Linked DNA regions of Homo sapiens. The protein of the gene in region 1 purifies or fractionates together with the protein of each later gene. This does not show direct contact. Each region holds a gene or a part of one and is shown in the gene's direction. Other genes may lie near its edges.

What was found.
Region 2: the proteins of SMC4 (region 1) and HECTD1 purify together in Homo sapiens (affinity purification with western blotting; 3 studies listed by BioGRID, with this or other methods). This does not show direct contact.

Annotation. Positions count from the first base shown.
Region 1 is NC_000003.12:160,416,650-160,423,649, forward strand, and holds part of SMC4 (structural maintenance of chromosomes protein 4), read left to right. Parts: intron 1-1,073; coding exon 1,074-1,307; intron 1,308-2,708; coding exon 2,709-2,894; intron 2,895-4,090; coding exon 4,091-4,252; intron 4,253-6,775; coding exon 6,776-7,000. UniProt on the Homo sapiens protein: Central component of the condensin complex, a complex required for conversion of interphase chromatin into mitotic-like condense chromosomes.
Region 2 is NC_000014.9:31,123,776-31,140,898, reverse strand, and holds part of HECTD1 (E3 ubiquitin-protein ligase HECTD1), read left to right. Parts: intron 1-901; coding exon 902-1,007; intron 1,008-4,233; coding exon 4,234-4,368; intron 4,369-5,283; coding exon 5,284-5,423; intron 5,424-5,703; coding exon 5,704-6,027; intron 6,028-7,223; coding exon 7,224-7,390; intron 7,391-7,484; coding exon 7,485-7,661; intron 7,662-11,450; coding exon 11,451-12,287; intron 12,288-12,892; coding exon 12,893-13,114; intron 13,115-17,123. UniProt on the Homo sapiens protein: E3 ubiquitin-protein ligase which accepts ubiquitin from an E2 ubiquitin-conjugating enzyme in the form of a thioester and then directly transfers the ubiquitin to targeted substrates.

The DNA of each region.
Region 1 (7,000 bases):
AATACAGTACCTTGATTATTATATATGCCACTCCTAAGCGTGTTGAATCATCATATTTTGTTGCCACCTGTAAAACCTGGAGCCACACTAAGCGCAGGTTAATGTCTCTTTTGTTTTTGCTTCTATAGCTCTTGTGTAATAGTTAAAAGCTGTGGCTCTTGTTTCAGTTCTTGGTTCAAATCCTAGGTCAATCACTTACTGTCTCTGTTCTTGTGCCGGTTGTCATATCTCCAAGTCATCTTCCTTAAAATGAGAAAGAATATATCTACTTTGTGAAAATAAAGAATAAATATATCTATATAACGTACTGAGAAAGAAAATAAATGTTAGCTATAATTTTAGCATTATATTAATAAAACGAGAGCATGAAGTTGTCACATTGATATGTATTATCTACCCCAACAAGAGTAAGCATAAAATTATCTTTGTTTGTATGTACCACAGCATTTTTGACAGTGCTAAGCATGTTAAATACCTATGTTAATGGATAATGGTAATTGACTGCATTAAAAAGTCATGGTAGAGTCTGCTTTGGCATATCAACATGTTCTAATGTCAAACTATAAAACTTAACAGGTTAGAATACCTGTGTGATGAAGTGTCACTTAATAGAGTCTGCTTTGGAATATGGACATGTTCTAATGTCAGATTATAAAACTTTACAGGTTAGAATACCTGTGTGATAAAGTGTCAATGGATAATGCAGTAGCTTTCATGATGGGATACTTCATAGTTAGTGGATTTTCACTGTTTGCTTATTTAATATATATTGAGTACTCATGTGCCCTGCACCCCATGTTAATGACAAAGCTAGGCCTCAAATGTCTTTATTCCTCAGCGTAATGATCGATCTCACAAAGCTCTTGTGAAATCAGTTGGGAAAAGACTATGTACAGTGAATATTGACAACTAGGCAAAAACTGAATCTAGTCCACTTGTGAGAATTTCTTATTTCTATATACTGTGCTTATAGAATCTCCTTTCTTAAATCGAATATAAAATGTATGGTTTCATTTCAGTGTAGGTTTGAAAGTAAATATCTGTCCAGATTTAATGAACTCATATTTTAACAGAGTCGAGAGAAAGAACTTATGGGTTTCAGCAAATCGGTAAATGAAGCACGTTCAAAGATGGATGTAGCCCAGTCAGAACTTGATATCTATCTCAGTCGTCATAATACTGCAGTGTCTCAATTAACTAAGGCTAAGGAAGCTCTAATTGCAGCTTCTGAGACTCTCAAAGAAAGGAAAGCTGCAATCAGAGATATAGAAGGAAAACTCCCTCAAACTGAACAAGAATTAAAGGAGGTAAATCTTTGCTTCTCTGTTGCATCAGAACATCATTCGTCCACTTCAGCTTTATACATTTTTGTTTTTAATCTCCGCGTCAGAGGTGACTAGTGATAAATTTTCTTCATTTTGTATAATCTCAAAAGAATGAGGTCAGCATTTCAGTATTCCATATGTGAACTGAGACTATCAAGAAACTATATTATCCCCAGAAGCACCATATAGTAAGTAAATCACCACCACCACCCCACTGTAGAAATAATTTAAACAAAAGAAAGTTTGTGTTTCTTTAAATCTTAAGTATAGACAATTTAAAGATAAATAAAAAACAAGTGTATATGTATTTATATAATGAATATACAAACAACTATCTTAATGTGTTTTGGGTTTTGAATTTATGGATGTAGTTTCTTTGCTTGCATTCCAAAATGTTATAAACTAACTAAGATGTATAGCTTATCGGTGCCTGTCCCCCATCCTTGAGTGAATTAGATGTCTAAGGAATTTCGTAAACTTTAATCTCCAAAGATCTCCAAAACCTCAGTAGGCAAGGTGGCAATAAAAAAAAAATCTGTTTGAAGTGTAATTATACTGAAAATAAATATGAGTCTTTTTCATTTTAGTTAATGCATGCTATTTGGTCATCAGGGAATTTCATGACCAGGTAGAATTTAAATGTAAATTAAGTTAGATCCAGTGACTGCTTCTGTCTTCCTGGGATTCGGTTTCTTTTGGGATGAATTATGTCAGTAACTTGGTTTAAACTTTATGCCAGTACAGTAAGTAATAGACATAATTTAAATCTAGTGGATGGAGGAATATACCAGTTAGAAAAGATGGCTGCTGAGAAGTTGGAGATTGAGAAACAGAGGTTGTGTTTATGTGTGCATGTTTGTGGTTCCTTTCTTGTTGGGAGCCTGGCATTTTTGTATAGCAATAGGACTATCCAGTCATCTTTCGTTTCAGAGGTGTGCTTTTTCTCCAGTACCCCCCAGCCCCGTTCAGCTAAAATAAAGCACAGCATAACCGTAGTCCTGCCCAGTCATTTTCTGGGTCAGCTTTTCATTAGGGCAGAGCTGAAGAATTAGGGCACACTTATGTATAACTATGTAGTATCAAACTGGGATTTCCACAGCCCCAGCTATACTTCTCTATCAGGATGAACTGTTTGCTCCTGAAAAAAATATTACACCTAATGTTTTCTTTTATTGACCCAAGTAATTTATGCCCCTTTTAAACCCATCCATATTTTCCACAACCAAACCAGCAATTGCCATACAGGTGCTCAGTTTTGGTTCAAATTTTTATTGTTGGTCTTTCTTTCTTTATTGTTATTAAAGCATTACAACTAATTCAGTGCTATGACTGGTCATATTTAGAAGTTAATGCTTCTGGATTTCATTTTATTTTCACTTTTAGAAAGAAAAAGAACTTCAAAAACTTACACAAGAAGAAACAAACTTTAAAAGTTTGGTTCATGATCTCTTTCAAAAAGTTGAAGAAGCAAAGAGCTCATTAGCAATGAATCGAAGTAGGGGGAAAGTCCTTGATGCAATAATTCAAGAAAAAAAATCTGGCAGGATTCCAGGAATATATGGAAGATTGGTAAAGTAGATTTTTGGGGGGCATGGCTTTACTTTTTTTTTTTAAGAAAGTGTAACTTATTTTTTTGCCTTGACAACCATATTTCAAGTGTCACTGTATATAAAATAAGATTCATTTTGTTTGTTTTAAGGCACATTTATTTTTAAACATTTTGCCCTTACAGTTTCTTGTTTACTTAGCTTTAGATAAATACAATTATTTCATACATATCAAGAAAAATACTAGTAATGTCACACAAACTTAAAACCATTTTATCCTTTTTTTTAAAAGAGAGACTTTAGCCAGGCACAATGGTGTGTGCCTGTAGTCCCAGCTGTTGGAGAGGCAGAGGCAGAAGGATCACTTGAGCCTAGGAGTTCAAGTCCATCCTGGGCAATATAGCAAGACTGTTTTTTAAAAAATGAAAATTAAAAAAAATTTTTTTATATATTTGGGGTTTCACACCATTTTACTTAGGTTTGGGCTAGCATTTAAGGATATAACAAGGGATAATCTAAAAATCCAAGGCTAGCAATAGTGAGGACCATTACTGCTTCTTAGCTTCGAGGGAAGGGAGTTGTGGTCCAGAGGAGATGGGGAAAATGGATACCTTAACCCCACCTATTTCCTGCCCTCCAGTCTTAGCTGAAACCTCAAATTGGCTGAAGGTGGAGAGTCAAAGGAGCCAGTTGATGCAGTCCTTAAGTCAGCCTTTCGGAGAAGGGAACAAATTGATGTAAAAATTACCCAACATGATTGCTTCTGCATCTTGTATCGGGACTTCCACCTTATTTTCTTAAAGATAAACAGTTTGATCCTATTCATTTGCTCTCAAAGAAAGCCCAAACCAGTGAATACTGCTAGATAGTTGTGTAATAGATAAACAGATAAATGTGTTTCATCAGGATTTACATAATTTTAGATGCTTTTCAATAATTCAAAGTTTTCTGAGTTTTGCTTATAGTTCATTTAGGTTTTAAGCTTCATGTTGTTTTCATAAAATGAAAACAGTTCTTTCATTTTGTGCTCATTAGAAATTCAAGCTGCATATTCATAAACTTATACATATTTTGTATTTTGTTGTGTACCCTTTTGTTCTCTTTAAAACCATGTCTACATAAAGTTTTTCAATTAAAAGAAGTTTTTAAAACTTGATGAATGAAATGGTCCTGTGCTTTTCTGCCTAACTCTTTTTTCACCCCACTCTTCATTATTAGGGGGACTTAGGAGCCATTGATGAAAAATACGACGTGGCTATATCATCCTGTTGTCATGCACTGGACTACATTGTTGTTGATTCTATTGATATAGCCCAAGAATGTGTAAACTTCCTTAAAAGACAAAATATTGGAGTTGCAACCTTTATAGGTTTAGATAAGGTGGGTATTCGTAATAACCTACCTATAATTGGAATTTTTTTTTTTTGAGACGTAGTCTCGCTCTGTCACCCAGGCTGGAGTGCAGTGGCATGATCTTGGCTCACTGCAAGCTCCGCCTCCCGGGTTCACACCATTCTCCTGCCTCAGCCTCCCGAGTATCTGGTACTACAGGTGCCCGCCACCACACCCAGCTAATTTTTTTGTATTTTCAGTAGAGAGGGGTTTCACTGTGTTAGCCAGGATGGTCTGGATCTCCTGACCTTGTGATCCGCCCACCTCGGCCTCCCAGAGTGCTGGGATTACAGGCGTGAGCCACCACACCCAGCCCTATAATTGAATTTTTAAGTGCTAAGTGTGTTTTTCTTTTTGGATTCAGGCTTTTTCTTAATGGTTACTCAGTGAACACCTGATGGGTTTTGACGATTATTTTATGTTCTGGGGTTATATGATTATAAAAAATTGTTTGACATTTGCAGTGCCTCCACTAAAGGAATGTACATTCCAGAGTTAAAAGGAAAACCTTTATTGAGATAATTTACCTACAATAAAATTTATCATTTTAGGCCAGGTGCGGTGGCTCATGCCTGTAATCCCAGCACTTTGGGAGGCCAAGGCGGGCGGATCACGAGGTCAGGAGTTTGAGACCAGCCTGGCCAACATGGCGAAATCCCATCTCTACTAAAAATACAAAAATTAGCTAGGCATGGTAGCAGGCGCCTGTAATCTCAGCTACTCGGGAGGCTGAAGCAGGAGAATTGCCTAAACCTGGGAGGTGGAGGTTGCAGTGAACCTAGATTGCGCCACTGCACTCCAGTCTGGGTGACAGAGTGAGACTCAAAAACAACAAACAAAACAATCATTTTAAAGTATGTAATTTGGTGGGTATTAGTATATTCACAGTGTTGTTCACCCATGACCACTATCTAATTCCAAGATATTTTTATCACTCCCAGAAAGAAACCCCATAGACAGTAACAGTCGCTCCCTATACCCCTTCACCCCCTCCGTAACACTAACTACTTTTTTGTTTCTGTAGATTTATCTACATATAAATGGAATCATACAATATATGGCCTTTTTATACAGCTACATTTACTTAGCAGGTTTTCAGGTTCATCTATGTTGTAGCATGTATCAGTACTTCATTCCCTTTTATTGCCAAATGGTATTCTGTTACATCATTTTGTATAACCATTTGTCAGTTGATGGACATTTGTGTTTTCACTTTTTGTGCTTTGGCAATACTTGTGCTACGAACATTTGTGTACAAGTTTTTGAGTGAACATGTATTTTCAGTTCTCTTGGGTATATATATACCTAGGGTAGAACTGCTGGGTCATGTGGTAATTCTATGTTTAACTTTTTGAAGAACTGTCAAGATTGTTTCCACAGTGGCTGTACCATTTCCCACAAGCATGTGTAAGGGTTCCAGTTTCTTTACATCCTCGTTAACACTTGTTATGGTACATCTTTTTGATTATAGTCATCTTAGTGAATATGAAGTGGTATCTCATGGTTTTGATTAGGATTTTCCTGGTGATTTATGATAGTAAAAGTCCTTTCATGTCCTTGGCCATTTGTTATCTTCCTTGGAGAAATGTCTGTTTCAAATCCTTTGCCCATTTTTTAATTGGTTTCTCTTTGTTGAGTTGTAGGATTTCTCTATTCTGAATACAAGTCTCTTGTGAGATATGATTTACAGATATTTTACCCCATTCCTTGGATTGTATTTTCACTTTCTTGATGGTATCCTTTGAGGCACAATTTATCTTTTTTTTCCTTTGGTTGCTTGTGTTTTGGGTATCATACCCAAGAAACCACTGCCTAATCCAAGGTCACAGTGATTTGCCTCCTTTGTTTTCTTCTAAAAGTTCTATAGTTTTGGCTTTATATTTAGGTTTTAATCTATTTTGAGTTAATTTTATCACGTGATATAAAGTAGGGCTCAAACTACTCTTTCCATGTGGCTATCCAGTTATTCCAACACCATTTGTTGAAAAGATTCTTTACCCCATTGAATTTTCTTGGCATCCTTGTTGAAACCACCCAACCATTAATGTAAAGGTTTATTTCTGGGCTTTCAGTTTTATTACTTGTGCTGGTATAGGACACTGTCTTGATTATTGCAGCATTGTAATAAGTTTTAAAATCAGGAAGTCTGAGTCCTCTAATTTTGTTCTTTATCATATTGACTGTTCTGGGTCCCTATAATTTGTATATATGACTTTTAAGATCCAGATGGTCAATTACTGCCACAAAAAAAGGCGAGGAAGTAACTGGGATTTTGATACAGGTTGTATTGAATTTGTAGATCAGTTTAGATAGTATAGGCATCTTAACGGTATTAAATCTTTAGAACCACAAACATGAGATGTCTTCCGTTTAGGTCTAATTTTAGAACCTTTTGTGTATAATTCTTGTTTCTTTTGTTGAATTTATTCCTATGGGTTTTTTTTTGTTTTTTTTTTTGAGTTTTCTTTTTTGTTAACTGTTGTTTTTGTTTGTTTGTTTGTTTACTTTTAGATGGCTGTATGGGCGAAAAAGATGACCGAAATTCAAACTCCTGAAAATACTCCTCGTTTATTTGATTTAGTAAAAGTAAAAGATGAGAAAATTCGCCAAGCTTTTTATTTTGCTTTACGAGATACCTTAGTAGCTGACAACTTGGATCAAGCCACAAGAGTAGCATATCAAAAAGATAGAAGATGGAGAGTGGTAACTTTACAGGGACAAATCATAGAACAGTCA
Region 2 (17,123 bases), on another chromosome or scaffold:
CTAATTGCTAAAGCTGGGTTGATAAAGGTTCATTATATTATTCTGTGTACATTTGAATGGGATTGCACTTGTCAAATAACAAGTTATACAATTTATTCAGATAATTGTGTTAATTTCAAATTTCATTTTTAATGAATGCATATTATATCTTTATGGATGTATAATGTTTTGAAGTATTACTGTGTTTTAGCTCTTTGCAAACTATTACTAATACTTAAATATACTAGTCTCAATGGAAGCATCTTTTTACATAAATTCCGTAAGTGGTAATACTGTGTTATAGGTTATAGATGATTTCTTTTTTTTTTAAGAGATGGAGTCTTGCTGTGTTGCTGAGGCTGGAGTCCAGTGGCTATTTACGGGTGCCAGAATTTTGCACTACAGCCTTAAACTCCTGGGCTCAAGCAATTCTCTTTTCTCAGCTTCCCTTGTAGCTGGGACTCCAGCATATACCACCTTGCCCAGCTCTGCAAGACGATTTTTGAAAGTTCTTGATTCAAATTTTCACATTGTTTTCCGGAAGTGTCATTGCAGTTTACACTAATAATGAGAAAGTATATGTTGTGATACCCTAGCCATCAAATATTTTTTCAAAACTTTGTTGCTTTATATTCTTTTTTATTTATCAAATATTATCCAGTAAAATTATTTAAACTTTAAAAATAAATCATACATCTGCTTTAAATATAATTAAGTTTTTATTAGAAAAATGAAATGTTTTATTCTTAAGTAAAGGAAATTGAGTTGTGAGAGTATTTCTACTCAGACATAATCTAATACAAAAATTAAACTGTAGTCATGAAAAAGTAGGGGTATATATTGAAGTTGATTACCATATTTTCTGCATGAACATTTACATGTAGTTATACAAAACCTCTTAATAATAATTATTTCTTCGCAGTCGACCAGCAGTTGCGTTAATTCGAAAGTTAATAGCTGTACTAGAATCTATTGAACGTCTACCTCTCCATTTGTATGATACACCAGGATCCACATATAACCTCCAGGTAACCATAAAAAATGTAGTAGCTAGTATTGCTGAATGCATCTAGGAACAGTGTGACACTTTTCTTTAAAAAAAATTATTTTCTTTCACATCGGATTAAAATAAAAATGATTCTACTTAATCTTTAAAGATTTTAGCTTATATGCCATTTGATTGATCTTAATGACTTGAAGTCTGTTTTGTTTGATCAAATCACTGGAAAATGATGCATTCATTTAATATTTGTTAAAAGCATTATATTTCGTAGATCATAAGTGGCAAAAGGTATCAGTGGAAAAAGCTGAGAAAAGGGTTCCTCTTATTCTACAATTATGAGTCAGTTCTGTCTTAGTCCATTTGGGCTGCTGTAACAAAATTCCTGCGAACTTAATAAACAGAAATTCATTGCTCACAATTCTGGTGGCTGGGAAGTCCAAGATCAAGGTGCTAGCAGATTTGGTGTCTCGTGAGGGCCTATTCCTCTTAGATGGAACCTTCTAACTGTGTTCTCACATTGTAGAAGGGATGAACAAGATCTCTCAGGCCTCTTTTATAAGGACACTAATCCCATTCATGAGGGCAGAGCCCCCCCAGAAGTTCCACCATCCAACACCACTGCACTGGGGATTAAGTTTTAACACATGAATTTTGCGGGGACACAAACATTCAGACCATGGCAAGTCCCTTCCTTATCACTATATTGTAAACATAAGAAAAAAAGTCAAGATATTTTAAGCACAATTTTTTTCGGGTCTTTATGTCAGTGGTTAGAGTCAGATTGCCCAAGTCTTCACTATTCCTATCAATCACATGGTTTCATAGCCTCTTTTCCTTCCCTCCTCCTCCCCATACAGATATATATATATATATATCTGTATATAATATGTAACTTCCTATTTACATTCTCATTCATTCAATTATTCTTTTCTTTAGTAGCTGGGATCTAGATGCAAACAAACAATACATTTTACTAATGTCCTAGCCCAGAACTTTATCACTTTTTTTGTGGGTTTTTTAGTGTTTCCTAGCAAGGCCTTCTGCTTTGAATTTTGCCTTTATCTAAACTGTTCTGCATTCTACTGCATGGAATAGTTTCTTTTGAATAATAGCCTTTAATGAGTGATTGAGGATCTATATATGCCAAAGCAATGCAAAGCTAACAAAACTTGCCATACCTCTGAGAACCCAATACTGTTATCAGTGCCACTAGACTCCCAAACTAGAGTACTTATTTAGGGAGTTTTACAGTGCAGTAGTTGCACCTGATATTCTATATGTAAAAGATGTGGAGGGCTACTTTGTGTTTTGTTTCAGACAGAATAACAGGAGTAATGGGGACTGTTTGGTCCATTGTTTTTAAGCTTTATTCCTGGTAAGTGGATGAGTTGGAGATAAGTCTCAAAGACAGTGCACCGATGCCTTTTATTATGCATTTTTCACTTCAGGAGATTGTGCAAGATCCAAAGAGAGGAAGGCCAGGAATGTGCTCTCTGGTAATTTTGCTGTCTAAAACTACCGAAATGCACATATAAATCTTTAATTGTTTTTATAGGAATTAGTTAAGATTTATACAGAAATGAATCTACCTAAAATTGCTAGTCCTGTGCTTGTTGCTTACTAAAATGTATTGGATTAAAAACTATTTTGCATCTTTTAAAGTTTATTAGCCTTTGATTATACAGGTTGAGTATTCCTTATCCAAAATGCTTGGAACCAGAAGTGTTTTGGATTTTATAATATTTGTTACCGATTCAGCATTCCTAGTCCAAAATCTGAAATGCTCCAGTGAGCATTTGAGCATCATGTCAGTGCTCAGAAAGTTTCAGATTTTGGAGCATTTCAAGATTCCAGATTTGTAGATTAGGGATGCTTATCCTGTAGAATATATTCTAGCGGAGTAAGCTAATTAGCTACTTTTCAAAAACTTACCTGGAAAATTGTGAGTTATAAGTCACTTTGATTAAGAAGTTTTATAAGTTTATTTAAACTGTGTATATTTAGAAGTTAAGAAGTTTTGTAAGTTTATTTAAACTGTGTATATTTAGAAGTTGTTTAGAAATTCTAGGAAGTTAAGTTTGTCTTTTACTTGATAGCCACTGTAACTTACTTAGTGTCCCTTTTATAAAAGAATCTTTCCTGTTGGATTGTTTTCTTTTTTTTCTTTTTTTCTTTTCAAGACTGGGTCTAGCTCTGTTGCACAGGCTGGAGTGCAGTGTCGTGATCTCAGCTCGCTGCACTCTCCGTGTCCCAGGCTCAGCTGATCCTCCCGCCTTAGCCTCTCCAATACCTGGGACTACAGGCATGCATGCCTGGCTAATTTTTTGTTGGTTTGTTTGTTTTAATATGTAGAGATGAGGTCTCACTGTGTTGCCCAGGCCGGTCTTGAACTCCTAGGCACAAGCAATTGATCCTCTTGCCTCAGACTCCTGAAGTGCTAGGATTACAGGTCTGAGTCACTGTGCCTGGCCTAAAGAATGTTTAATAGGCTGGGCGTGGTGTCTCACGCCTGTAATCCCAGCAGTTTGGGAGACCAAGGTAGGCGGGTCACCTGAGGTCAGGAGTTTGAGACCAGCCTGGCCAACATAGTGAAACCCATCTCTACTAAAAATACAAAAAGTAGCCGGGCGTGGTGGCACGCACCTGTAATCCCAACTACTCAGGAGGCTGAGGTAGGAGAATTGCTTGAAGCCGGGAGGCAGAGGTTGCAGTAAACCGAGATCACTCCACTGCACTCTAGCCTGGGCAACAGGAACAAGACTCCCATCTCAAAAAAAAAAAAAAAAAAAAAAAAAGGCCGGGTGTGGTGGCTCACGCCTGTAATCCCAGCACTTTGAGAGGCCAAGAAGGGTGGATCACGAGGTCAGGAGATCAAGACCATCCTGGCTAACAAGGTGAAACCCCGTCTCTACTAAAAAATACAAAAAATTAGCCGGGCGTGGTGGTGGGCGCCTGTAGTCCCAGCTACTCAGGAGGCTGAGGCAGGAGAATGGCATGAACCCGGGAGGTGAAGCTTGCAGTGAACCGAGATCGCGCCACTGCACTCCAGCCTGGGCAACAGAGTGAGACTCCGTCTCAGAAAAAAAGAAAAAAAAAAAGAATCTTTGATAGAAAACAGACATTTGTTCATAGTTCTATTATGTTTATAGTTAATAAATCCAAATCTCAGTTGTTTTAGGGTATATCATTTTTTACAATTCTGAGACAGAAACCAAGACGTTTTCCAGAGTATTTTGATCGTTTTTGTGTAGATACTTACAAGGAGATTACGATTTCGGTTGGAACGTGCACCTGGTGAAACTGCATTGATTGACAGGACTGGCAGAATGTTGAAGATGGAACCTTTGGCTACAGTTGAATCTCTGGAACAGTACCTTTTGAAAATGGTGAGTTTCTGGCAAGGGCACGGTGAAATAAGCATTCTGAGCTGTGGTTTAGCCTTTTAGGACAATAATTTGGGAAGTATATATCCAGAGTTATGGTAATACAGTTTGGCCCAGTAATTCCATTTTAGAACTGATTTCTACATGAAGATGTTTATTATAATTTTGTAATATTGAAATAGTAAACAAAAACCTTAATTCCAATCAATAAATTAATGTTAAATAGATAATTCATATTAAAAATTTAAATTTAATTGACAAATGTGTGTGATAATTATTTCTATTAATTTGAGTATCATATAGCCATAAAAATGTATAAAGACTAATGATAACAGAAAAATGTTTTTGTACAGTATGATCAAGAATTTGTTTTATCCTATCCATTGAAATAATAAACTAAAGAAATACTCTGTGATTATTAATAGTGAGGTGCTTTGGTTGTGGGACTTTTTATTTTTCTTTATATTTTTAAATGAGCATTTGTTTTTTGTTTTTGTTGTTGTTGTTGTTTTGTTTTGAGACAGAGTCTTGCTCTGTTGCCAGGCTGGAGTGCAGTGGCACAATCTCGGCTCACTGCAACCTCCGCCTCCCAGGTTCAAGTGATTCTCCTGCCTCAGCCTCCCAAGTAGCTGGGACTATAGGCACCTGCCACCACGCCTGGCTAATTTTTGTATTTTTAGTAGAAACGGGGTTTCACCATGTTGGCCAGGGTGGTCTCCATCTCTTGACCTCATGATCCACCCACCTCCGCCTCCCAAAGTGCTGGGATTACAGGCGTGAACCACCGCACCCGGCCTAAATGAGCATTTGTTATAATAAAAGAAAACAATTCACATTAAAGAGATAGGAAAAAAGTAGGTAACGTGCTTGAAAACAGCATTATTAAGGTGACTGTCTTTCATATTTTCTTTGGTTTAGGTAGCAAAACAGTGGTATGATTTTGACCGATCTTCATTTGTTTTTGTTCGAAAATTAAGAGAAGGACAAAATTTTATATTTCGGCACCAGCATGATTTTGATGAAAATGGAATCATTTACTGGATTGGAACAAATGCAAAGTAAGTCAGTCATTTTACTTTAAGCTGGAGTGACCATATTCACTTGGTAAAAGAATTCTAGGAAGTAGAATAAAATTGTTAGCACTCTGAATATTCTGTGGTTTAAGGAATTTTGACTTGTAGGTAGAAGTTAAGATTATCCAAATTACTTTTTATGAGGAAAAAATGTCTAAATTGCTAATTCTAGAATTGTACTTAATATAATTCTGTATTTAAAACCTTGTGCAAATGCAATTATCTTAACGTTGTTATTTGCTAATTTTTCTTTATTTTTGTATAGAACTGCTTATGAATGGGTAAATCCAGCTGCCTATGGACTTGTAGTAGTAACGTCATCAGAAGGAAGAAATCTACCTTATGGCCGCTTAGAAGACATACTAAGTCGTGATAATTCAGCTTTAAATTGTCATAGCAATGATGATAAGAATGCCTGGTTTGCCATAGATCTGGGTCTCTGGGTGATACCATCAGCATATACACTTCGTCATGCTCGTGGTTATGGAAGGTCTGCACTGAGAAATTGGGTTTTCCAGGTATCCAAAGATGGACAGAACTGGACTTCTTTGTATACCCATGTTGATGACTGCAGTCTCAATGAACCAGGGTTAGTTGAGGAGTCTTTGCAAATTGGAAAACTCACTAAAGAGCTTTGTTTATTTTTATAATTTTATACTCTAGAGCTCTCTTCCTTGTGAAATATTGAAGCAAAATTTTCTTTCTAAAAACAAATCACTTGATACTTTAGGCATTAAAACTTTGAAACACTGACTTTACTAAAACTTTGTCAAAAGGTTTAGTTTAAATAATAGAAAGCCGAGCTATTTTACACTGTATCTTAGCCAAAAGGCTGAGATGCTGTGAATATTTATTTTAAAAATTGGTATATAGCTGTATATACATACGCGCGCACACACACACACACACACACACACACACACACACACACACACACACACATTTATGCATACACACACAGCCCACTAATGGAAACAAGTGAAATAAACTTTCCATAAACTCTCCATATAATCACATAATACTTAGGAATGTTCAACATATTAGCAGTGGCTATTGCTCGTTATAGAATTAAGGCTGACTTAAAATGTTTTTATTTTTATCCTTAAATTTTATGTATTGAATAAGTTTTTAAAAGACAAGTCAGTAACTTCTAAAAAATTAGTTCTACTAAATTTTATTTATGCATTTTGGCACATATCAGGGGGTAGATTATGTACCCAAATTGCTTTTGGCATTTGATATGGTATGAGAGGAGCTTCTTAACATTAGGATTAATAGGTGATGTTTTCACCCCTTTCATGCTTTAAAGACAAAATATTAATACGTTATTTAAAAGTTTGCAAAAATGTTTTTAAGTCCGTTTTTCCATCATAAGAGAATTTCTCCTACTCTTTGTAAACCATCCTTTTTTTTTTTTTAAGGAGAATGGGGTCTTGTTATGTTGGCTGCTTTCTAACTTCTGGGCTCAAGTGATTCCCCTCACCTCAGCCACCCAAACACCACTGCACCCAGCATTTTGTCTTTTATCTTTGAATTATATTAATCATAAATCATTAATGTTATGAGTCAAATCAATAGCGTACATTTAAATGTTTCGTTTTTAACTTGTTCTCTTGACTACTTTTTTTCCTTTGATTTCTTGATTCTTGTAATGAACTGTTGAGTTAATATGAAAGTTAGTTTATTTTTTCTACAGGTCTCTGTTATATAAAAAATCTTTCCCATCTTGAATTTCTTTTTCATCTTTTAAAATATTACATAATTTTTTCTCTAACATATTAACAGGTCAACTGCAACTTGGCCTCTTGATCCACCAAAGGATGAGAAACAAGGGTGGAGACATGTGAGAATTAAACAGATGGGGAAAAATGCCAGTGGACAAACACACTACCTCTCATTATCTGGATTCGAACTTTATGGCACTGTAAATGGAGTATGTGAAGATCAGCTAGGTAAAGAGATGATACGAGGCTTTTCTAACTTACTAAAACAATTACTTTTGTAAAAAGTGATTTGGTTTTTATTTCTCCAATTTCTACCTGACAGGGAAAGCAGCTAAAGAAGCAGAAGCTAATCTTAGACGGCAGAGACGTCTAGTACGTTCCCAGGTTCTGAAATACATGGTTCCAGGAGCTCGTGTTATCAGAGGCCTGGATTGGAAATGGCGAGATCAGGATGGCAGCCCACAGGGAGAAGGCACTGTCACAGGAGAACTACACAATGGTGAGTAGGTGCTCAGCACTTTTGTGTAGAAAATGGGTAGTTAAATTTTTTCTTTTAAGATAATTTATAAATTGCATAAATGTATGAGCACTGTTTAGAAGAACTGTTGATACCACATTACAAATGGAAAAAAGGTAAAGAAAATAAGGGAAAATTTTAAGTTCTTGGGTTTTGACTAGAAACTTACTGGTAGTATTTTGGAAGTGATCAAGCCTAGTGTAAGTTGAGTATCTTCAAGACACACTTCCGGTTTTTTCCCCTAGTTTATTTTCAAGCTTACTGTGAGTTTTATTTTAATTTCTTATGTTTTTCTTTATCTTGTTAGTCTCACACCATAATTTTTATGGTATCATAAATCATATAGAAGAAAAAGGATTAACATTTTTACTGTTTTTTAATAATGCATGGAACAAGAAACATTGTCTCTTTATCTGTTAGTAGATTATTATTATTTCAAAGTGTTTCTTAGCCTACCTGCTTTTTGGGGAGGAGTTTATCATGTTTTCTAAATATTGCTATGTGAATCAAGTTTCTTTGATGCTGCACAGTTTAGCAAAGTCATCCACTTAATAAATTGCTATTAACTTTAAAGCAATTATAGTGGCTAATTATTTTCTTCAAACTATAAGGCTGACTTATTAGCAGATAATTTGCCTAAATGGCAGTGGGTTTGTTTTCATCAATTTTGTATCAGTTTTTGGCATTAAAAAAAGTAAAAATGTTTATATTCTCAACTTACACCACATATATATATCCACATATATGTGTGTGTATATATATGTATTTTTTTTTTTTTTTTTGAGACAGAGTCTCGCTCTTGTTGCCCAGGCTGGAGTGCAATGGCGCAATATCAGCTCACTGCAACCTCTGCTTCCCAGGTTCAAGCGATTCTACTGTCTCAGCCTCCTGACTAGCTAGGATTATAGGCATGGGCCACCATGCCTGGCTAATTTTGTATTTTTAGTAGAGACGGGGTTTCTCCATGTTGGTCAGGCTGGTCTTGAACTCCCGACCTCAGGTGATCCACCCACCTCGGCCTCCCAAAGAGCTGGGATTACAGGCGTGAGCCACCGCACGCGGCAACTTACACCACATATTTAAAGAGCTAGAATAAATGTGACGGTACTTACGAGAATGACTGACATTTAATTTCATGTTTTATGTGGTAAAGACATTTATTTATTCAAATAAACCCTTTGACTATATTGCTTTTAAGATTCTATTCCTTGAATTATTTTACTGCCAAATGTATTTATGTAGTATCATGCCCTAATTGCAAATCATTGTAATCAAAACAGGTTTACAGCGACCTAAAATTCATAAATACCAGTAATAGTTGAGATATCAACTATTATTGTTATACTGAGTTGAATAGTAGTGCCATTCAACTCAGAAAATTTCAAGTTTTCTTTTTAGGCATCTTGATGATACTTATTAAAAAGTTGTTATTCTATTTCCTGTAATTGTTTTGGCCTTGATGTATGTGACTTGATAAGAAGAGGCTAGTTAGAGATGTGTGAATGCAGTTCTTTTTTCTCAGGATGGAGTCAACTGAAGCAATTGCATAGGGAAATTAGAATCTTTTTTTTTTTCCCAAGATACAATGGCACAACAGTTTTAATACAACCACCAGTCTTCAAAAAATAATTTTAATACTTTGTGCCTGTACTAGCAGCATCTTGCACTGTGACATTCCTATACATACATAAGCATTTTATTGAAGTACAAATGTTAAAAGCAGAGTAACTTAAGCAATTGCCTATACAAAGGTAAATAGACACTGTGGGTTATTTTTCTTCTCGATTCATTTTTGCTGCATAGTAAGTTGCAATTACATGTCAGTATAATAATGTTACTGATCTATAAAATATATTTGAACCGTGAGGTATGGCACCTCCCTATGAGAGAGTGCTAACATGTACATCTGAATATTTTGAGTGTTTTTTGTTTGTTTGTTCGTTTTAGCTGCCACAGATGGGAAAAAAAAAAATCACCTAGCCTAGAAATCTCAGAGTTTAGCGTTCAAGAAAGGCCTATTTTTGCTAATCTGACAAATGTAGAAATTTAGTTTTGCCTAATCAACATGGCCATTCCCATCAAGTTATGCCTTTGAGTCTCTATGTCAGAGAGGGTTCTTAGCTTTCAAATACTTAAACCAACCATTTCTAATGATGGATAGTCATTACTGACTCTATTTTTTTTTTTTTTTGGTTTATCTTTTGGGTGTAGAAGGAGTTGAGAGAGTATGTTTTTTGGGCCAATTAATATAATACAAAAGTTACTTTTATTTGAGATTGGGCTATGTTTTTGAAACTTTTCCTTTTCTCACACATTTCTGTGTAGCAGAAGAGATAGTTAAATGTTGGTTCTTCAGAGATTATTTCAGCATACAGAAAAAAATAGAGGCAATTGAAAAATCTCATCTAAGCTACTTATGTAGATTTGGGGCAGTCACTTTTCCTTTCAAAGAACACATATGCAGATAATCCCCACAGGTAATTCAATATTATTTCCCTCTGAGTGCTATCATAAACATATGAACTTGGTGTAAGTGTGGGTGAGCATCTGGGTGTGTGGATGGGTGTGTATGTGATCTTGGGCCCCTTTTATGTATGGGTAAGAACTTTATAAAGGCTTGTTATACTTCTAAAAAAATGTTTTTTATGTCTTATGTTTTTCCCTGAAATAGTTAGCTTATAACACTAAAATAAGATTGTAAAATTTCTATTAATTTGCTTTTAATAGACAATTTTTTTTTTGCTTTTGGAAGTTAATTACCTTTTTAAAAAAAGAATATCATTTTTCTACTACAAGTAAATATATAGATTGAATATCATTATGCTCGTTAATTCTGTACATGTTATTAGCTTTAGCAGATAGTTCTAATAAAAGAGTTCAGTATGCTCTTTAAATTTTTTTTTAGAATTTTCTGTGTTTATTCAAATTTATTGAACTTAATTATTTAATATAAGAGAACCAAGGAACCACTGAACTTTGAGAACACAACCGAAATGCTAACTTTAGTGTTTTATTTGAACTAGTGACTAAAATTTCTATGGCAATATATGAATATTTTGAGAGGTTAGCCCAAATTGTAAGAAATTAATGGTAAGCTGGCATGTTTTTGTAGAAAAAAAATTTGACTACACATAATTATATTTAGCAGTTTTAAAACTTTTACCTAGATTCTGTTTACTTGCTGAAGTGGCAGTATTTTACCATGTATATCAATCTTTTAAAATTTCTTAAACAGTTCTTCCATTTAAGAAGTAACCAAGCCAGGTGCAGTGGCTCACATCTATAATCCCAGCTACTCCAGAGGCTGAGGTGGGAGGATCGTTTAAGCCCAGGAGTTCAAGATTAGCATGGGCAACGCAAGACCTCATCTCTAAAAATCAAATAATTTTAAAAATGAAATATAACCCAGTAGATTTAAACATGACCCTTACATTGCTTTTAAATGTCATAGACTGAATAGTTCAGAAATAAGGGAAATAAAAGGAAGAATTTTAAACATTTCCTGGAAACCTTGTATAGAGTACATATTTCTTGTCCTTAAAATATTTGTATCATGAGAGTTAAATAATATAGACTTTCAGATAGCTAGTCATATCGTCAAATAATTGAGTCCAAAAATTTACATATATTTTAGTGGGCAGACCTTGATTGACTATAGAAATTCAGAAAAGGACAGCACTGATGAAAAGCTGATCCCATATTGTGGAGCTACTGTCTGACACGCTCCTATCTGCTTTCTGCTGGGTCTCACAAACTCCTGTCCCTTTCCAGGCTGGATTGATGTCACCTGGGATGCTGGTGGCTCAAACTCTTACCGTATGGGCGCAGAAGGAAAATTTGACCTCAAGCTTGCACCAGGGTACGACCCTGATACAGTGGCATCACCCAAACCTGTTTCATCCACTGTTTCAGGCACAACGCAATCATGGAGCAGCTTGGTGAAAAACAACTGTCCAGACAAGACATCTGCTGCTGCAGGCTCCTCAAGTAGAAAAGGAAGCAGCAGTTCTGTGTGTAGCGTGGCCAGTAGCAGCGACATCAGCTTGGGTTCGACCAAAACGGAACGGAGATCAGAAATTGTAATGGAACACAGTATAGTTTCAGGAGCTGATGTCCATGAACCAATTGTTGTTCTTTCATCTGCTGAAAACGTCCCTCAAACAGAAGTAGGGTCATCTTCCAGTGCAAGCACCAGCACCTTAACAGCGGAAACGGGAAGTGAAAATGCTGAAAGGAAGTTAGGCCCTGATAGTTCTGTTCGTACTCCTGGGGAGTCTAGTGCAATATCCATGGGAATTGTCAGTGTTAGTTCTCCTGATGTTAGTTCAGTATCTGAATTAACTAATAAAGAAGCAGCTTCACAACGACCTCTTAGCTCTTCAGCAAGTAACAGACTGTCAGTGAGTTCTTTGTTGGCTGCTGGGGCCCCTATGAGCTCTAGTGCAAGTGTACCTAACCTGTCCTCAAGAGAAACATCTAGCTTGGAGAGTTTTGTAAGGAGAGTGGCAAACATAGCACGGACTAATGCCACGAACAACATGAATCTAAGCCGAAGCAGCAGTGATAACAACACTAATACTTTGGGGAGGAATGTGATGAGCACAGCAAGTAAGTGAGCTTTTCCTTCTGGAATCCGATGCTTTTTCCACTTGGAGGGATGCAAAATAGGGTCTCTTGTTCTGGCTGCAGTTTTTAACTAGATCATTAACCATGTTAGATAAAGCTACATCAAATTTAGCAGTTCAGGAATATGAAGTTCTCTAGAATCATAATATTTGCAGAATTCAGACTAGGTGTGATAAAGAACCTCTTATTTTAGAAGCATAAAACAGTACTTCTGATTTTCACTCCTTTATGATACATCATTAAGCAAAGTTGCATGAGGAAATAGATGACTATTAAATATTATCATAGTGCAGTGAAACCAAAGCATCATATAAGTATAGCTTTTGTTTAGACTCTACATTGATCTTAGCTTCTGAAAGTTAAATTCCAATTTAAGCTGCTAACAGGTCAAAGTAATTATATAATAGTGCTATAAAAAGAATTTTTAGTTGGATTTCAGTTGGGTTCCCAAAGTTGTTGCTTTTCAGGAACCATTTTATTATTAGTGTGTTTTATGACCTCACTCTTTAAAAAATAAAAAACTTGGTTTTTCTGAGGTTTCTACAATCTCACCTATTTGTACTGATTTGCTTCATTTTTGTCTTTAGCTTCTCCTCTTATGGGTGCTCAGAGTTTCCCTAATTTGACCACACCTGGTACTACATCAACAGTGACTATGTCAACATCCAGTGTTACTAGCAGCAGCAATGTAGCTACAGCAACAACAGTTTTATCAGTTGGTCAATCTTTAAGTAACACTTTAACCACCAGCCTCACATCAACTTCCAGTGAGAGTGACACAGGTCAGGAAGCAGAATATTCCTTATATGGTAAGTTGTAATTTAAAATGAAAGTATTTAGATACTTTCATAATGATGCTTTTATTATGTTTTCTCCTGATATTTTAAACTTTTGTTTAAAGAGAATTATTCTCTCTTCTTATAAATATGAAATCTTCGGGCCAGGCACAGTAGCTCACACCTGTAATCCCAGCACTTTGGGAGGCCGAGGCAGGTGGATCAGTTGAGGTCAGGAGTTCGAGACCAGCCTGACCAACATGGTAAAACCCCATTTCTACTAAAAATACAAAAGAAAATTATCCGGGAGTGGTGGCACACGCCTGTAATCCCAGCTACTCAGGAGGCTGAGGCAGAAGAATTGCTTGAGCCCAGGAGGCGGAGGTTACAGTGAGCAGAGATCGCGCCATTGCACTCCAGCCTGGGCAACAAGAGCGAAACTCCTTCTCAAAAAAAAAACAGAAAACAACAAACAAATACAGAATCTTTATATATAATATGAAAAAACTCAGTAATACGAGAGACTATTAAAAAATTATCTGGGGCCAGGTGCGGTGGTTCACACCTATAATCCTAGCACTTTGGGAGGCCAAGGCGGGCGGACCACTTGAGGTCAGGAGTTCGAAACCAGCCTGGCCAACATGGTGAAACCCTGTCCCTACTAAAAATATAAAAAAAATTAGCTGGGCGTGGTGGCGGTTGCCTGTAATCCCAGCTACTGGGAAGGCTGAGGCAGGAGAATCGCTTGAACCCGGGAGGTGGGGGTTGCAGTGAGCTGAGGTCGCACCACTGCACTTCAGCCTGGGCGACAAAGCAAGACTCCGTCTCAAAAAAAAAAAAAAAATCTGGTCAGAAGTGGTGGCTTGCGCCTATAATCCCAGCACTTTGGGACGCCAAGGTGGGAGGATCACCTGAGGCTCAGGAACTCAAGACCAGTCTGGGCAACATAGACCCCCATCTTTACCACCCCTACATCCCCAAAATTAGCCAGGTGTGATGTCATGCTACTGAGAAGGCTGAGGTGAGAGGGTTACTTGAGCCCTGAAGTTCAAGGCCCCAGTGAGCTGTGATCATGCCACTGCACTCCAACCTCAGTGACAGGGCTAGACCCTATCTCTGAAAAAATATTTTTTTTTAAATTGCAATTATCTGATTATACATGAAGTAGATCTAGGAACTTTATATGTCATTTTTTTTTGTATTTTGTCACAAAAGAAGTTTTAATGGAAGAACCATAAAGCTATTTGACACTCTTATCACTAAGAGAAGAAGTGTAATAGATTCATAAGCTTTGTAAAATGATATTCCTTGTATGCTGTTATCACAGTCTTTTGGAAGTAATTCCTTAGTTAGGTAATGCATGATTCTTGCAAATTAAATTTTATTTGGAAAGTTCAGTAACAGCCTTATGGCTTCCATGCTATAATCAAAGGGATGTATTTGATTCAGTTAAGATAGAATCTGTGTTTCTATTTCTTTTATTTCATCTTATTAGAAAAGTAATGCTCTGTATAGAAACTAGAAGAAAATTAAAATCATCTAGTCCCCACCTACCAGACAACCAGCTTTGATGTACATCATTTGATGTATGTTTTTGTTTTTTTAACATAAAAGGATTATATCCTTTTCCGCCAGCTGTTTTCACTCAATACATTGTGAAAATATTTTCACATATGTTGCATGGGTTTCTATAACATTTGAAATGACTGCCAAATATTTCACTGTATGATCATCATTTAATATTATTATCAATTTTGTATATTTAAGTTAGAACTTTTCCATTACCATAAACATCATTATGAATGAGCTTTCTTGAACTGTATTTTAATATACTTCCTTAGGATAAATGCTTAAAGTAATAATTATTGAATTGCTTTCCAAAAACATTGCACTCCATCCCAATTGTTTTGGAATACCCTTTACCATATATCCTTGATCATACTGCCTGTTTTTCTTTAAAAAAAAAAAATTGGGAGTAATTTTAAAGACAAAGTTTATGTGAAGATACATTTTTAAGGTGCTATTTTGTGTATAGCCCATTTTCATGTTTTCTTCCTTTTTGTGAGAATATAGCCTCTCCTAATTCATAGCAAGAATTTGATATGATGTTCCATAGTTTTAAGAGAGTCATTATATTTCTGTTTCTGCTTATTAAACGTGTGTGTAGCAAAATGATGATGATTACACCAAAGTGTTATAAATTCATTGCATAAGGTGTTTTCTGATTTATTATTTCTCATGGTGGCCCTGTGCCCCTCTCTACTGATTTGTTATTATGTTAACTTCAAGCATTAGTTCTTGGTCATGGGAAGTTGAAGATGATTGTGGGTAGGAAAGAGTGAACTGGCCGGGCGCTGTGGCTCACGCCTGTAATCCTAGCTCTTTGAGAGGCTGAAGCGGGCAGATTGCCTGAGGTCAGGAGTGTGAGACCAGCCTGGGCAACATGGTAAAACCCTCTTTACTAAAGTACAAAAAATTAGCCAGGTGTGGTGGCCCACTCCTGCAGTCCTAACTGCATAGGAGGCTAAGGCACCAGAATCTTTTGAACCTGGGAGGCGGAGGTTGCATTGAGCCACGATTGTGCCATTTGCATTCTAGCCTGGGCAACAGGGCAAGACTCTGTCTCAAAAAAAAAAAAAAAAAAGTTAGAACTACTGATTGACTTTTAAATTTTGTTGTTAGGTTTGACTAGCCTTAAAAAAATTTATTGTTGGCCGGGCACAGTGGCTCACGCCTATAATCCCAGCATTTTGGGAGGCCAAGGTGGGCAGATCACAAGGTCAGGAGTTCGAGACTAGCCTGGCCAATATGGCGAAACCTGTCTCTACTAAAAAATACAAAAACTAACCGGGTGTGGTGGCGGATCCCTGTAGTCCCAGCTTCTCAGGAGGCTGAGGCAGGAGAATCTCTTTAACCCGGGAGGTGTAGGTTACAGTGAGCCAAGATTGTGCCATTGCACTCCAGCCTGGGTGACAGAGCGAGACTCCATCTCAAAAAAAAAAAAAAAATTTATTGTTAGATGATGAAAAAAATTAATATAATTTTTATTTTAGATTCAGGGGATATATGTGCAGGTTTGTCACAGGGGTATATTGTGTGATGCTGAGATTTGGACTTCTATTGATCTTATCACTCAAATGGTGAACATAGTACCCAATAGGAAGTTTTCAGCCCTTGCCCACTCTTGCACTCCTTTTGGAGTCGCTAGTGTCTACTGTTCCCATCTTGATGTCCATGTGTACCCAAGGTTTAGCTCCTACTTATAAGTGAGAACATATGATAGAAGATTTTCTTTTTTATATTCTTAAAGCTGGTAGATACTTTAAGACTGCTGGGGTGAAGGATCAGAGTAACATCAGTTTATACCATTTGTGTATGCTGTGCAAGCTTTTACTGTGTTTTGTGGTTTTTCTCTTACCGCAGGCACGAATACTATACCATGTTGTGTTTTGAAGAGACATTTTATTCTATGATGTGGTCAAATCTGTGAAATACAGAGCTTTTTAATGCTGGTAAAAAAGGGAAGATGAGAAAAAAAAAGGGACATCAGTCAGTTGTAACATACCGGAGATAGAATTTCAATATATGAAGTTAGATTATGTTCTTTAAAAGACAAATCAAAGTGGAACTGGTTTATTTTGTGTACCACCACATCATGTTAATCACAACCAGTTCCTAAATTGCAGGTGGCTCCTTACAAGTGTTAAAGGGTAACATATTTTATCAAATTTAAGATGCTGTTGAGTGTTAAGACACACCATTTTTTTTCTGTTACTAAGGTTAAAAATGTTGCAATTTAATTCTGACTTGCCATTGTTTGTAAGATACATTCCGATTTCAAAGCATTACAATGTTTTAAAAATGTAGACCTTTCAACCTGAGAAAGTTGATAACAGCAAAAAAATGTGGACCCTTAGAAACTAATGAAATATAATGGCAGGCCTCTTCTACTGGCCATCCAGTAAAAGGCACTGAATATTTAGTCCTGTGTAATTATTGGACTAAAAACCATTTGGTTCAGTGGTCTGCAGGTGTAAGTTTC